4 linked regions of the Homo sapiens genome follow. The protein of the gene in region 1 purifies or fractionates together with the protein of each later gene. This does not show direct contact. Each region holds a gene or a part of one and is shown in the gene's direction. Other genes may lie near its edges.

The links. Proteins that work in one complex are often made in the same cells at the same time.
Region 2: the proteins of NDFIP2 (region 1) and SAR1B purify together in Homo sapiens (affinity purification with mass spectrometry; one large-scale study listed by BioGRID and IntAct). This does not show direct contact.
Region 3: the proteins of NDFIP2 (region 1) and ZDHHC9 purify together in Homo sapiens (affinity purification with mass spectrometry; one large-scale study listed by BioGRID and IntAct). This does not show direct contact.
Region 4: the proteins of NDFIP2 (region 1) and DDAH1 purify together in Homo sapiens (affinity purification with mass spectrometry; one large-scale study listed by BioGRID and IntAct). This does not show direct contact.

The regions. Positions count from the first base shown.
Region 1 is NC_000013.11:79,533,099-79,536,873, forward strand, and holds part of NDFIP2 (NEDD4 family-interacting protein 2), read left to right. Parts: intron 1-224; coding exon 225-358; intron 359-3,775. UniProt on the Homo sapiens protein: Activates HECT domain-containing E3 ubiquitin-protein ligases, including ITCH, NEDD4, NEDD4L, SMURF2, WWP1 and WWP2, and consequently modulates the stability of their targets. As a result, may control many cellular processes.
Region 2 is NC_000005.10:134,626,322-134,630,096, reverse strand, and holds part of SAR1B (small COPII coat GTPase SAR1B), read left to right. Parts: intron 1-3,775. UniProt on the Homo sapiens protein: Small GTPase that cycles between an active GTP-bound and an inactive GDP-bound state and mainly functions in vesicle-mediated endoplasmic reticulum (ER) to Golgi transport.
Region 3 is NC_000023.11:129,816,380-129,820,154, reverse strand, and holds part of ZDHHC9 (palmitoyltransferase ZDHHC9), read left to right. Parts: intron 1-3,775. UniProt on the Homo sapiens protein: Palmitoyltransferase that catalyzes the addition of palmitate onto various protein substrates, such as ADRB2, GSDMD, HRAS, NRAS and CGAS. The ZDHHC9-GOLGA7 complex is a palmitoyltransferase specific for HRAS and NRAS.
Region 4 is NC_000001.11:85,353,653-85,357,427, reverse strand, and holds part of DDAH1 (N(G),N(G)-dimethylarginine dimethylaminohydrolase 1), read left to right. Parts: intron 1-3,775. UniProt on the Homo sapiens protein: Hydrolyzes N(G),N(G)-dimethyl-L-arginine (ADMA) and N(G)-monomethyl-L-arginine (MMA) which act as inhibitors of NOS. Has therefore a role in the regulation of nitric oxide generation.

The DNA.
Region 1 (3,775 bases):
AGCCTTTAAACGGTATTTATCCATTCTTTCTCTTTATAATAAATTTGGACTAAAGTAAGATATATGATTGTAATAGTAATTTATATATTTTATAGCTTATAACATAGGCCTATAATAGCAATAGTAGTCCTGTATTGGTGGCCAGTTGTAAATTATTAAGTCATGGCTATGGCTACAAAATTAAATAGATTTTATTGGTTATTCTTTTTGAATTCTTTCTTCAGATACAGAAGTTTACGGTGAGTTTTATCCCGTGCCACCTCCCTATAGCGTTGCTACCTCTCTTCCTACATACGATGAAGCTGAGAAGGCTAAAGCTGCTGCAATGGCAGCTGCAGCAGCAGAAACATCTCAAAGAGTAAGAAAATTTCATCATTTCTTTTGATAAAATTATTTTCGTTAATTGATATATACATTTAGTAATACTAAAAACAGTTCTTTGTGTGTAAGTGTGTATGTAGATTTTTTTTGAGCATTATGGGTTTAAACTGCACAGGTCTACTTGTATGCAGATTGTTTTAAATAAATATATTGGAAAAATATTTTGGAGATCTGCAGCAATTTGAAAAAACTTGGGACAAATTGCATAGCCTAGAAATATCAAAAAAATTAAGAAAAGGCCTGTAATGAATGTATAAAATACATGTAAATAGTAGTTTATGTATTATCGACTGTTTATGTTATCAGTAAGGCTTCTAGTTAACAATAGGCTGTGAGTCGTTAAGTTTTGGGGAAGTCAGAGTTATACTCAAATTTTCTACCGCATGCAGGTGGGTCGGTGTCCCTAACCCGTGTATTGTTGAAGGGTTACTGTATTTGTTCTACTGTTGCTTATGTGTGTGGTCACTTTTTGTTGAAATTGGCATTCTCCTAGTTAAATTCACCTTCTTTATCCCTTGACTTCCTCTTTTCTATTGCTCTTCCCCGCTTATCCCTTCCTAAATTTTGATTTCAGGCCCCTCATGTGTTAGCCTTCACTTCGCATCCTAACTCACTCACTCTGGTTACCACCACTTGGAAAGTTCTTCTCTTTGCCTGGACCTCAAGTCCACTGACCTCTTTGCTGTCCATGTACTTATTTATCTTCTTACATAGTTTGAATTCCATGGCCTATCATTTTAATTGTGAATCATCTTTTTTTCTATTTATGTTTCTATATTAGCATAGCCAGTTTAGTGACTGTGAAAGAACTCAAGGTAGCCAAAAAACACAGAGAAATGTTACAAGGCCTTCAAATTATTTTTGTCAGCTGTTTTTTTTTTTTTTTTTTTTTTTGATAACATTCTACTCTAGAATTTTGGAATGATGATCAAGCATTCTGTCTTCCTCATCTACATGTTTTAGTAATGGAGTTAATGAGATACATGTGTATTACTCTTTGCTCTGGTAAATGGAGTGGCTGTCTCAGTAATGGAGAGTCAGTGAGATACATACACATCTACTATTCTGCAGCCAGGTAAGAGGCAGAAATTATTTACATTTTAGTGTGGCTGCAAGGAGGGCTAGAATTTTTTGCCTTTTTTTTCTTGCTTCAGACTTGAGAGATGCCGTTTCAGATCCCTGGATTCACCCCATTTTGTTCGGGAAAAAGACAAAAAAATCAATTCACCCAGGAAAGCTAGAATTAGGTGAGGAGTCAAGGGAGAGAGATGTGCTTCCATGTATGGCATTCTCCTCTAGCTGCTATGAGGTCAGAGCCCAGCAAGCAGATCCTCTGAGAGAAGAGCATGTGCCCTGAATGTGTTTCTTTGATCAGCAATAACCCTATTTATGCCTGCTCCTACTACCCTCTTCCAGCACACACAGGGTTAAACGTCAACATAAATAGCTTTGGACACAGTTATGAAGGTAGATAAAGACAGTAAACTCCGAATTTATTTTTTATGCCTTTTCCTTCACAGAGGAGGAAAGTAAGTCTCTTAACACAGTGGCATAATATAGCTGAGTCAATAAGAATTTTTGTTGCTTTGAGGGGAACATCACAGAGGAGGAGGATAGATCTAAATAGGGTATTTTTGTCTAAATAAGTTCTCGGTTACTTAGAACACATATATTTGTAAATGAACATGCACATCTCTCAGTGAAGTAGATTGATTCCTCTCTAGCTATGAAAGTCCCAATAACTCCTTTTCTCAGGGGGTGTTTGCCCAGAGACCTTAAGAAGTATTATGGACCGTAGATCATTTACTGCCCTAACTTCCATACAATAGGATAGAATTCTAAAGACAAGGTAGGAAGCATTAAGTCTTGGTAAGTGTGCTTTGAGAAAAGTTGATTTTACCCCTTTTGAAGAGAAAAGTCTGAAGTATTACTGTTCCATTCCCTCATTGTCATCATTTCCAGCACCCTGTTTTAGAAAGTAAATGTAATCCTCAGCCAGAATTGGAACATGTCCATAAAGAAAAGCTCCCTGTTTTTACCTGCTTCTGATATCATTGTAACCCCAGCTTGTGAGCATTGTGGAAAATTTCATAGACAGCAAAGTATTAATAGAATTGTGTACAAGAGACTAACTTAGGTCTTGTAAAAAATCTTATAAATTTACCAGTGCTTCCTAACCCGGTGCTTCAGCACCCTCTTTGTGCAGAGTATGAATGTTTGCATATGAGTCTCCATTACCTGATTGAGATGAAAAATTGGTCAATGCTTGAAAATTGCTAGGAGAGTAGATTTTAAGCGTTCTTGCACAAAAAAAATATTTGAGGTACTGTACATGGTAATTAGCTCAATTTAGCCACTCCACAATGTATACACATTTTAAAACATCATGTAATACATCATAAATATATACAGTTTTTGTCAATTACAAACAAAATTTAAAAATTGAAAAAAAGTCTCATCAAATTAGCATTTGAGTACATTCAGTTGTAAATGAGTCTCAGCTGGGTGAGTTGAAAGCTTGTTTCCTAAATCAACTCTCACTGGGAGAATATAGATAGTCAAGAGACTTTAAAACTACTGTTTTTACTATTTCCTATTTCTGATGTGTAGAATTGCACGTATGTTATGGAATGGTTAAGTAGATTTCTGAAAATGACAACTCATTGTTAATATTTCTATGAAAAATGCTAATTCCAAACTATTAATTTTATAAGATGTTTAGAACATGGCTTGTTCTTCAGGTAGACTCATTTCATCTTATAATGGGTAGGGCTCTTTTTTTGTAACTTGTTTTAAATTGTTGCAGTAACTTGTCTTTTGACTAGATAAATCATGAGCAACACCAGGACAGAGATCTTGCATTTACATTCCCAGTACCTAGTTATTTATCAGGCACATTTTTGTTGTTTAGTCAATGACAGTTGATTAAGTTAATGAATGCTTTCTTTGTGTTAGCCAATGTGGGAAAATAGAAAGAGGAAAACACCACAGGTGTTCTGTTACAGCTCTCTATTTTAAAATATTTTGATGTCTTTACCAATTTCAGGATTCACAAATTAATGTTTAATGTAGTTGAAATTATTGCCTAGATACCATTTTATTTTTTAAACATCTTATATAAATATTTCCCTGTTACTTAATAGTTAAATTCCCTGTAATCAATATGCTATTGAAACTTAGTGGCCATTCCTCTAGAGTGAACAATTATTTTCAAATGTTTGTGTTTCGATTTTTTCTATTAATATTATAAAAGACATCTTTGGGCATATTGCAGTGACTCACTCCTGTAATCTCAGCACTTTGGGAGGCTGAGGCAAGCAGGTTGCTTGAGCTCAGGAGTTTGAGACCAGCCTGGGCAACACAGCGAGACCTTATTTCCACTAAAAAGAAAAAA
Region 2 (3,775 bases), on another chromosome or scaffold:
AACTCGGGGTTTCACTATGTTGGCCAGGCTGGTCTCGAACTCCTGACCTCAAGTGATCTGCCTGCCTTGGCCTCCTAAAGTGCTGAGATTACAGATATGAGCCACTGTGCCCAGCCCTCACCTTGGCCACTCTTAAAAATTTTCTACTATTTATATTTGTCATGGTTTTATCCTTCGTTTTCTTTTTCTTTTTTTTCTTTTTTTTTTTTTTGAGACAGAATGTTGCCCTGTTGCCTAGGCTGGAGTGCAGTGCCACGATCTTGGCTCACTGCAACCTCCGTCTCCCGGGTTCAAGCAATTCTCATACCTCAGCTTCCTGAGTAGATGGAACTACAGGTGCCTACCACCACACCCAGCTAATTGTTTTTTTTTGTTTGTTTGTTTGTTTGTTTGTTTTTTTGAGATGGAGTCTTGCTCTGTCGCCCAGGCTGGAGTGCAGTGGCGCGATCTTGGCTCACTGCAACCTCTGCCTCCCAGGTTCAAGCGATTCTCCTGCCTCAGCCTCCTGAGTAGCTGGGATTACAGGTGCACGCCACCATGCCCAGCTAATTTTTGTATTTTTAGTAGAGAAGGTGTTTTACCATGTTAGTCAGGCTGGTCTTGAACTCCTGACCTCGTGATCTGCCCGCCTCGGCCTCCCAAAGTGCTGGGATTACAGGGGTGAGCCACCGTGCCTGGCCTATTTTTGTATTTTTTCTTTTGTAGAGACGGGGTCTTCCCATGTTGCCCAGTCTGGTCTCAAACTCCTGGGTTCAAGTGATCCCCCCACCTCGGCCTCCCAAAGTGCTGGGATTACAGGCATGAGCCACTGCACCTGGCCTATTTTTGTATTTTTTTTGTAGAGATGGGGACTTCCCATGTTTCCCAGGTTGGTCTGAAACTCCTGGGTTCAAGTGATCCCCCCACCTTGGCCTCCCAAAGTGCTGGGATTACAGGTATGAGCCATCATGCCCAGTTCATCCTTCTTTTTTTTTTTTTTTTAAAGACAGGGTCTCACTATGTTGCCCAGGTTGGAATGCAGTGGTGTGATCATAGCTCACTGCTTGAATTCTTGGGCTCAAGCAATCCTCCAGCCTCAGCCTCCTGAGTAGCTGGGACTACAGTTTCTTGCTACCATACCCAGGTAATTTAAAAAATTTTTTGTACCGGGCATGGTGGCTCACATCTGTAATCCCAGCACTTTGGGACACCGAGGCGAGTGGATCTCGAGGTCAGGAGTTCAAGACCAGCCTGGCTAAGATGGTGAAACCCTGTCCCTACTAGAAATACAAAAAAATTAGCTGGGCTTGGTGGTGGGTGCCTGTAATCCCTGCTACTTGGGAGGCTGAGGCAGAGAATTGCTTGAACCCAGGAGGTGGAGGTTGCAGTGAGCCAAGATTGTGCCACTGCACTCCAGCCTGGGCGACAGAGTGAGACTTAGTCTCAAAAAAAAAAAATTTTTTTTTTAGAGATGGGATCTTGTTATGTTGCTCAGGCTGGTCTTTAACTCCTGGTCTCAGGTGATCCTCCTGCCTTCGCCTCCCAAACTGCAGGGATTACAGACATGAGCCACTGTGCTCAGCCTGGATATTTGTATTCTAGGACAGTTACTACACCCATTTCACCATAGCATTACCATGCTTTGCATCCCAAAGTTATTAGTGCATTGATTCTACAATCATACTCTGATGTCATATTTGCCTCTTTAGACTATTAGGTCCCTTATTTTCTCCCAATAGTACTTTTTGGGTATTTGTATTTTGTCATCTTATGTGTATTTTTTTTTTTTACAGGACCCCTGAGAACTAATGTGTATTTTTTATTTTTATTTTATTTTTTTGAGGCAGGGTCTCACTGTCACCAAGTGCATGCTATCACATCTGGCTAATTTTTGTATTTTTTATAGAAATGGGGTTTTTCCACGTTGCCAAGGCTGGTCACAAACTAAATATGTATTTTTTTTCTTTTTTTTTTGAGACGGAGTCTTGCTCTGTCACCCCGGCTGGAGTGCAGTGCAGTGGCACGATCTCGGCTCACTGCAACCTCTGCCTCCCAGGTTTGAGCGATTCTCCTGCCTCAGCCTCCTGAGTAGCTGGGATTATAGGCATGCACCACCATGCCCGGCTAATTTTGTATTTTTAGTAGAGATGGGGTTTCTCCATGTTGGTCAGGCTGGTCTCGAACTCCCGAACTCAGGTGATCTGCCCGCCTCGGCCTCCCAAAGTGCTGGGATTACAGGCGTGAGCCACTGCTCCCGGCCCTTAATGTGTGGTTTTATTTATTTATTTATTTATTTATTTATTTATTTATTTATTTTTTGGGATGGAGTCTCGCTCTGTCGCCCAGGCTGGAGTGCAGTGGCGCAATCTCGGCTCACTGCAAGCTCTGCCTCCTGGTTTCACGCCATTCTCCTGCCTCAGCCTCCCGAGCAGCTGGGACTACAGGCGTCCACTACCACGCCCGGCTAATTTTTCTGTATTTTTGGTAGAGACGGGGTTTCACCGTGTTAGTCAGGATGGTCTCGATCTCCTGACCTCGTGATCCGCCCGCCTCGGCCTCCCAAAGTGCTGGGATTACAGGCGTGAGCCACCACGCCCGGCCGGTTTTAAAAAGTAAATGAGCCAGGCATAGTGGCCTATGCCTGTAGCCCCCAGGTACTCAGGAGGTTGAGGTGGGAGGATTGCTTGAGTCCCCGAGATTGAGGTTGCAGTGAGCAGAGACGGCGCTCCCTGGGTGAGAGGGAGACTCTGTCAAAAAAATAAAAAGTGGCGGGGCGCGGTGGCTCACGCCTGTAATCCCAACACTTTGGGAGGCCAAGGAGGGCGGATTACGAGGTCAGGAGATCGAGACCATCCTGGCTAACATGGTGAAACCCCGTCGCTACTAAAAATATAAAAAATTAGCCAGGCGTGGTGGCAGGCTCCTGTAGTCCCAGCTACTCGGGAGGCTGAGGCAGGAGAATGGCGTGAACCTGGGAGGTGGAGCTTACAGTGAGAGGAGATCGCGCCAGTGCACTCCATCCTGGGCGACAGGCGAGACTCTGTCTCAAAAAAAAAAGTAAATGGTTTTGTGTAATTACTCATGTAAATCAGTTTTAAATATTAAATGCCATATAAGCTTTTTAAAATTTGCTTTTAAAATTTTTCTATAATAGCTTTTTTGAGATATAGTTGATATACCATAAAATCGACCTTTTAAAATTGTACATTAAGTGTTTTTAGTATAGTCACATTGTTGTGTAAACATCACCACTATCTAATTCCAGAACATGTGATCATCCCAAGAAGAAACCCAGTACCCATTAGCAATCATTCCCCATTTTTCCTTCCTTCAGTCTGACAACCACTAATATACTTACTCTATGGATTTATCTATCCAGGATATTTCATTTAAATGAGCCATCCATGTAGTTTAATGGAACAAGGCTTTAAGAAGTTACTTGTAATCTGAGATTCTGTTCCATTACATCCTTTGCACTGGTTTTCATGTTACTTGAGTAGATCACTTTTCTAATCTGCAGAGAGACTTTTCCTGTTTGGTATTGGTGCAATAAATAAATCTGCTGACGTGTGTATGTTTCCTTGTTCTTGACCTTTGCTCTTCACATGTCTTAATAGTGTGTTCATGGTGTTGTGTAACCTGTTTTCTGGGCTCAGGTATCTGTTTGCAGCTAAGTAACTTTTATTCTTAGTTGGGCATTTTTACTTCTACTTAAAATAACAATAAAAAAACAGTTAATTCTGTTTCTAATTACTCCTAGTTTGTTTTAAGGTTCCTAGAAACCACATTTTTTTTT
Region 3 (3,775 bases), on another chromosome or scaffold:
GTGCCAGTGGTTCACTTTCTAGGGAGTCTGTCCCATGAAATCAGAGATGTGGGAAAATATTTCGGGGTGGAAATGTTTAACTCAGGATTATTATGACAATTAAAAGTTGAAAAGAACCTAATTGTCTACCAATAGATGAGTAGCCAAATAAATTATAGAGCCGGGTGTGGTGGCTCACTCCTGTAATCCCAGCACTTTGGGAGGCCGAGGTGGGCAGATCACTTGAGGCCAGAAGTTTGAGACCGGCCTGAGCAACATGGTGAAACCTCGTCTCTACTAAAACATACAAAAATTAGCTGGACGTGGTGACATGTGCCTGTAATCCCAGCTGAGACCCTGGCTGAGGCATGAGAATAAAAAACCCATGAGGTGGAGGCTGCATTGAACCGAGATTGTGCCACTGCACTCCAGCCTGGGCGACAGAGTAAGACTCTGTCTCTAAATAAATAAATAAATAAATAATAGGACATTCGTACATTAGACTGATGGAAAGAGTTCATACCAGAAAGCTAAATGACAAAATGGGAGATAGGCTACATTTACAGTGTGAAGTCAGTTACCTATTTTTAAAAAATCTAATGATGTATAAAGAAATATGCAAGGAAATACAGGAAATATGCCACAATTTTTATAGTTTATTATCTATAGGTTGTGGGATTATGAGTGATTTTGTTTCCTTCATTTTTTCATATGCCATCCTCCACTACTGTGATTTCTTCATTTTTCCTTTTATTTTTTTCAAGTTTTCTACAATGAGCATGTATTACTTGTATTATCAGAAAAAATGTGATTTAAAATACTGTAAAAAATATATATCTGTATAACCATTCTTCTCTATACCTTTCTTCCCTTTCCTGAAAAGATGTAGCTTCCTCAGCAGGAGATAGACCATTTTTACAGCCTTATTTTTTCACCAGTACACAGCTCACTTTTCTTTCAAATTGATATATTTTATTCTTTTTTTTTTTTTTTTTTTTTTTTTGAGACGGAGGCTGTCTCTCTCTCCCAGTCTGGAGTGCAGTGGCGCGATCTCAGCTCACTGCAAGCTCCGCCTCCTGGGTTCACGCCATTCTTCTGCCTCAGCCTCCCGAGTAGCTGGGACTACAGGCTCCCGCCACCACGCCTGGCTAATTTTTTTGTATTTTTAGTAGAGACGGGATTTCACCGTGTTAGCCAGGATGGTCTCTATCTCCTGACCTTGTGATCCACCTGCCTCGGCCTCCCAAAGTGCTGGGATTACTGGTGTGAGCCACCACGCCTGGCCCAAATTGATGTATTTTATTCTTTTGTAGTCTTTTATTCATCAAAATAACACATGTTCATTGTGGAAAATATGGGAAGTGCAGAAAGTATAAATAAAACTTAATCCTAAATTCACTCTCCATTTTGCTATATTTCCTACTAGTGTTTCTGCAAAATTGGACTGTAACATGATAGTTTTTAATCCTGCTTTTGTCATTTAACATTCTATCCTGAGCGTTTTTCTACATCTTTAATAAATGTTTCTTTAATATATTATTTTAATGACTGCATAATCCATCATATGGTTCTATTCAAGTTTATTCAGGCAGTCTTCTGTCATTAGACATTATTCATTCTTCTATTTTATTCATTGTTGTAACACTGCAATCATAATTATTAAACTTAAGGATGTGGAACAATTGGAACCTTCATACATTTCTGGTGAGAATGTAAAATCATGCAGCTGCTGTGGAAAAGTTTGGTGGTTCCTCAAAAAGTTAAACATAGAATTACCACATGACCCAGCAATTCCACTCCTGGGTGTATACCTATATTAGTCTGCTTGGGTTACCATAACAAAATACCTCAGACTGGCTGGCTCAAACAATGGGAATTTTTCTCTCACAATTCTGGAGGCTGGAAGTCCAAGATAGAGGTGCGAGAAGGGATGGTTTCTGGTGAGGCCTCTCCCCCTGGCTTGCAGATGGCTGCCTTCTTGCTGTGTCCTCACGTGACCTTTTCTCTGTGCTCACACACTACTGGTGTCTCATCCTCTCCTTACAAGGACACCAGTCCCATCGGATTAGGGCCCCATCCAGATGACCTCATTTAACTTTAGCTACCTCCTTAAAGGTTCTGCCTCCAAGTGCAGCTACATTGGGGGTTAGGGCTTCAACATATGGAACTGGGGAGTGGGGGTACAGTTCATTCCATAACAATAGCCAAAAGAATTGACAACAAGGACTCAAAACCTACTTGTACGCCAGTGTTCGTAGCATCATTATTCACAGTAGCCAAAAGGTGTAACCAACCCAAGTGTCTATCAACAGATGAATGGTTAAACAAAATGTGGTATGTACATACGGTGGAATATTATCCAGTCATAAAAAGGAATACAGTACTGATACAATGTGGATGAACCTTGAAAACATGCTATGTGAAAAAAAAAAAGACACAAAAAGACAAATATTGTGTGATTCCGCTTATATGAGATATCTAGAATGGGCAAATTCATAGAGACAGAAGATTAGAGATTGCTAGGGGATGGGGAAGGGGGAAATGGAGAGTTACTGCTTAATGGGTGCAGAGTTTCTGTTTGGAGTAATGAAAGGGTTTTGGAAATAGATAATGGTGATGGTTCCACATTATGAATGTAATTAATGCCACTGAATTGCACACTTAAAATGGTTAAAATGGCAAATTGTATGTTATGTATATTTTACCATAATAGATTTTTTTTTTAAGACAGGGTCTCACTCTGTCACCCAGGCTGGAGTGCAGTGGCGTGATCTCAGCTCACTGCAACCTCCGCCTCCCGAGCTCAAGTGATCCCCCCACCTCAGCCTCGTGATTGGCTGGGATTACAGGTGTGCACCACCACGACCCACGGATTTTTGCATTTTTTGGTAGAGATGGGGTTTCACCATGTTGGCCAGGCTGGTCTCAAACTCCTGACCTCATGATTCCCCTGCCTGGGCCTTCCAAACAATACAAAATTTAATTTAAAAGTTTGAACTTCGGCCGGGCGCAGTGGCTCATGCCTGTAATCCCAGTACTTTGGGAGGCTGAGGCGGGCATTTCACCTGAGGTCAGGAGTTCGAGACCAGCCTGGCTAACATGGCAAAACCCCGTCTCTGCTAAAAATACAAAAATTAGCTGGGCGTGGTGGCGGATGCCTGTAATCCCAGCTACTCGGGCAGCTGATGAGGCTTGAACCTGGGAGGTGGAGGTTGCAGTGAGCCGAGATCGCACCATTGCACTCCAGCCTGGGTGACAAGTGTGAAACTGTGTCTCAAAAATAAATAAATAAATAAAAATAAAAATTTGAACTTAAAATTTCTGTGTACATTTCTATTTTCTTATGAGAAATTGCTGAAAATGGACTTATTCTACCAAAGGGGTACAAGCTTTATGAAGGCTCTTGATACGTACTGCCAAATTGCTTTCTGGGAAGGTTCTTTCATTTTATGCTCCCACAAGCAGTATGTTAGAGTGTCCATTTTACCCTATTCTCACTAGCACTGGATTTTATTATTTATATTCTTATTTTGATAGGCATAAAATATGCTATTATTTTACTAGTATTACAATGAATTATTGGTGACTAGGAAAAATATTAAATATAGGTTTTATGGTATTTATTAGTTTTTGCCCTATTTCCTTTTTGTTTGTTTTTTGTTTTTGTTTTATGTGCAGTCGACTCTTGAACAATGCAGTTTTGTACTGCATGGGCCCACTTAATAATGAGGGTTTTTTTTTTCCAATAAATACAGTATCAGTGTGTTCCTCATCTGCAACCAAATGCGGATCCAAA
Region 4 (3,775 bases), on another chromosome or scaffold:
CTAAGTGTCACATACTGTCGCTATGGGTGGGGCCACCACGTTGCCAGCTCTGGGGGCGCCATTCTTCTTAGGGATTGTGTGAATAGTATGCCCTGGAGTTGTGTACTGCACCTGTGCTGCCACTGTCTCATGCAGTGGTCCATCTCTGGGGTTTGGTTTGCATGCCCATTGAACCCTAAGAACACAGAACAAGGAGTCAAGAAGGCCTACGCTGCATTCTTATCTCTGGGTGTGCCCAAGCAGACTCAGGCATTCTTTGAATCTGCCTAGTAAGTTCCCCTTAGAATATTCTTTGTGTCTCCCGTTGATGGCACTTTCATTCTTTTTGACAGTACAGAACAACAGTCTGTTTATCTAACAAAATAGGCTTTTGTGAAAAGTTAGATGTGTAAATCACACTTCCTTACAATATAACTCTTTTTTATCAGAACATAGCCATGCAATGAATAACTTATTGTAAGCAGGTACTGTTAACATTTGAAATATGGCTTAACCAAGCTATGTTCACAACCATTTATTTTAGCAGCTGAGCCAGAAAGACCCCCTAAAATCTCCTCAGTGTGAAAGTGCAACTTACACTAGGAGTCTCTTCTTTTGGTCAAAGGTCTTTCCCTAGCATCTCAAGCCCAGTAGTTTTGACCTATCTTCAAAGTAGGTACTAAGCATTTAGGCTTGCCTTTGATACTACCTGTAGACTTTTTTTATTTGTTATATTCAATACTTAAGTTAATGTGTTAATAGTTACTTTGTTCAAAACTGAGATGATGTTGGGATATCTTTACCTCCTTGGCACTCCATTCACACCTAATGTGTGTTCCTGCCTTCTATTTTCTACTTGTCACTTTTCTTCATCTCTTTTATTTTATTGCGGTTAAACACACATAACATTTGCAATTTTAACCATTATTAAGTGTACAATTCAAGTGACATTAATTACATTCATAATGTTATACAACTATTACCACTCAATTTTTGGATTAGGAAGAGTTAGATAAGAAATAAGGTCTGTAACATTTTCTATGTGCTCTATGTCCTCTTTTCTCTGTAATTCAAAGCCTCATTAATAATTTATCAGGAAATGGACAGAAGGAAAGCTGCTTTCCAAATCCAGTTCCTGCTGGGAAATCTGTCAGTCAGGCAAGCAGCTACTGGCAAAAATTGTTTCAATACCATTTCTCTTAAATAGACAGCAACTTACCTCTACTTTTATTTATTTTTGTGAAATATAGAGTACATTAAAAAAGAGTTATAAAATGTTTATGTACAGTTTAAAGATCAATAATAAAATGAACACCTGGGTGTCCACCTCCTGACTTAAGAAGTAGAACATTGCCAGGACCATAGACACCCCTGTGGGGTCCCCAGTCAAAACCAGCCTCTCCCCTGACCTCAAGTAACCACTGTCTTGAATTTTGTGTTAATTATTGCTTTGTTGTTCTTTGAGTTTTGCCTCCATGCATGTATTCCTAAAGTGTATGTTGTTTTAGTTTTGTTTGTCTTGTAGTTTTATAAAGCTACAAGATACCTTTATTAGAGTCACATTATATGAACTCTTAGGTGATTTTTCTACTTTTGATCTAAGTTGATGTGTGTAGCTGTAGTTCATTTTCAATGTTGTGTAGTTCTCTGTGATAAGAATACACCATAATGTATGTATTAATTTTACTACTGATGTGTTTTTGGATGTTTTCCAGTTTTTGTGGATTATCTTCTGTGTTTCTATGTACATTCTTGTGTGTGTCTCCTGGGAACATATACAAGAGTTTCTCTAAAGTAAACACCTGGAAATGAATTTCAGGTGATAGAGTAAACTCTTTTTCTTGTCACTGAAATGATTATATGATTTTCTTTAATCTGTTGATGTAGTTAATTTCATTAATTCATTTTCTGATATTTGACCAGTCTTGCAACCCCAGCATGAAATCAAATTTGATCATGATGTATTCTCTTTTTAACACAGTGTTGAATTTAGTTCGATAACATTTTGTTATGACTATTATTTTTGTGGCCTATAATTTATATTTCTTGTTATCCTTGTCTGGTTTTGATAAAAGAGTTACATTAGCCTCGTAGAATGTATTAGGGAATATTTCCTCTTTTTCTATTCTCTAGAATCAATACTATTTGAATTATATATTCCTTAAACTTTGGAAACAGGCTCTTGTGCCTTCTTTATGGAGAAATTTAAAACTGATTTAGTTGATTAATGATTATGTGACAATTTAGATTTTCCTGAGTCAGTTTTGATGCGTTCCATTTTCTAAGATTTTATCTGTTTTAAGTTTTCAATATGTTGGGTATAAAGTTACTTATATTTCCTAATATCTGTTTAAGCTTCACAGCAACTATAGCTATATTATCTTTTCATTGGTAATGTTAATTTATGCCTTCTTTCTTTGTTTGCCAGAGGTTTGTTAATTTTATTAATCTTTCCTAAGGACCAACTATTGGCTTGGTTGAACTCTTTCTCTTGAATGTTTCTTTTCTGTTTCTGTATTTCCTTCCTTCACATTTCTTTCTTTTTACTCTGTTCTCTTTTTTTCTACATCTCAAGTTGGAATTTTATCTCATTAATTTTAGCCTTTCATCTTCTCTAATGTAAGCTTTTAATGCTATGTAACTTGGCCTCCAAGTACTACTTTAGCAGACTCCTTCTTATTTTTATGTGGATATTTTTGTTATCATTTAGTTTTTTTAAATGTTTTGTAATTTCCACTGTGATTTAATCTTTGATTCATTCAAAGGTAATGAGGTTTTTTTTAAAAAAACTTATTGGTTATTATTGCAAGTTGGTGGAACACTAACTCATAACTGTAATAATTTATATGTAAAAGAAAGACTCAAGTATTTAGCTTTTCTTTCCTTTATGAATTTCATTTCAAGTAGACCAAATACTTGAGGAGAGATTTTCTTTTTAGGGTTGCAGCGAGTAAATGCAGATTCCTAATAAAAAAATAATGGATCTGTGCAATGATCAACAAATGATATTAAAACTGCTATATGAAAGCTTGACAGGAAACTTTATAATGAGGGAATCAGGCTGATGCCACTTGAACACACAGTAGTCCTATTAAAAAAATATATGAATGAGCATCTAATTAACCATCTACATGAAACTGCCTGCTTACTGAAAATACAAAGGATAAAGGAAAAAATTTAAATGTTAAGTTATAAGAGGAAGCAACCAGTCAAAGCAAGAATGTAGGACAGTCAGTAGGAAAAATGGCCTGGTTTCTCCTATAAATGACTGAGACAGGAAGGGGAAAAACAAAAATTGTGAATTGGCATAGAAGAAAATGACACAAAAGACATCAAAAAAATTTAGATGTCCATTTCAGTATTTTAGTTGTTTCCATCAGGAAGATTATTTAGGAGATCTCATCCAACGTACTGCCAGAGACAGAAGTCCAACCTACTTTGAAGAGATAAGCAGCATCCTTCTCTTTGTACTTTCCCATCACATCTTAGCCTTTTTTTACTTTTTTTCAATCAGCCCACATCACGCTCCGAACACCTTAGTCTTTTAAAATGGAAATGGTATGCATGCCACCCTATAAATTTGTTATATACATAAATGTGGAAATTTTCTTCCTCCCTTTGTTTCTTGGAAAAGAATTCCACATGAAATGTGAGAAAACATATTCAGAGAGAAATCAGTATTTTTTTTGCCTCAGAGTATTATGTTTTTCTTAAAAGATTTTCTTAAAAGTTATAAATAAATTAATTTATAAACCTATTTTTATCTTGAAAGAATTAAAGAAACTTGGTATTTTTT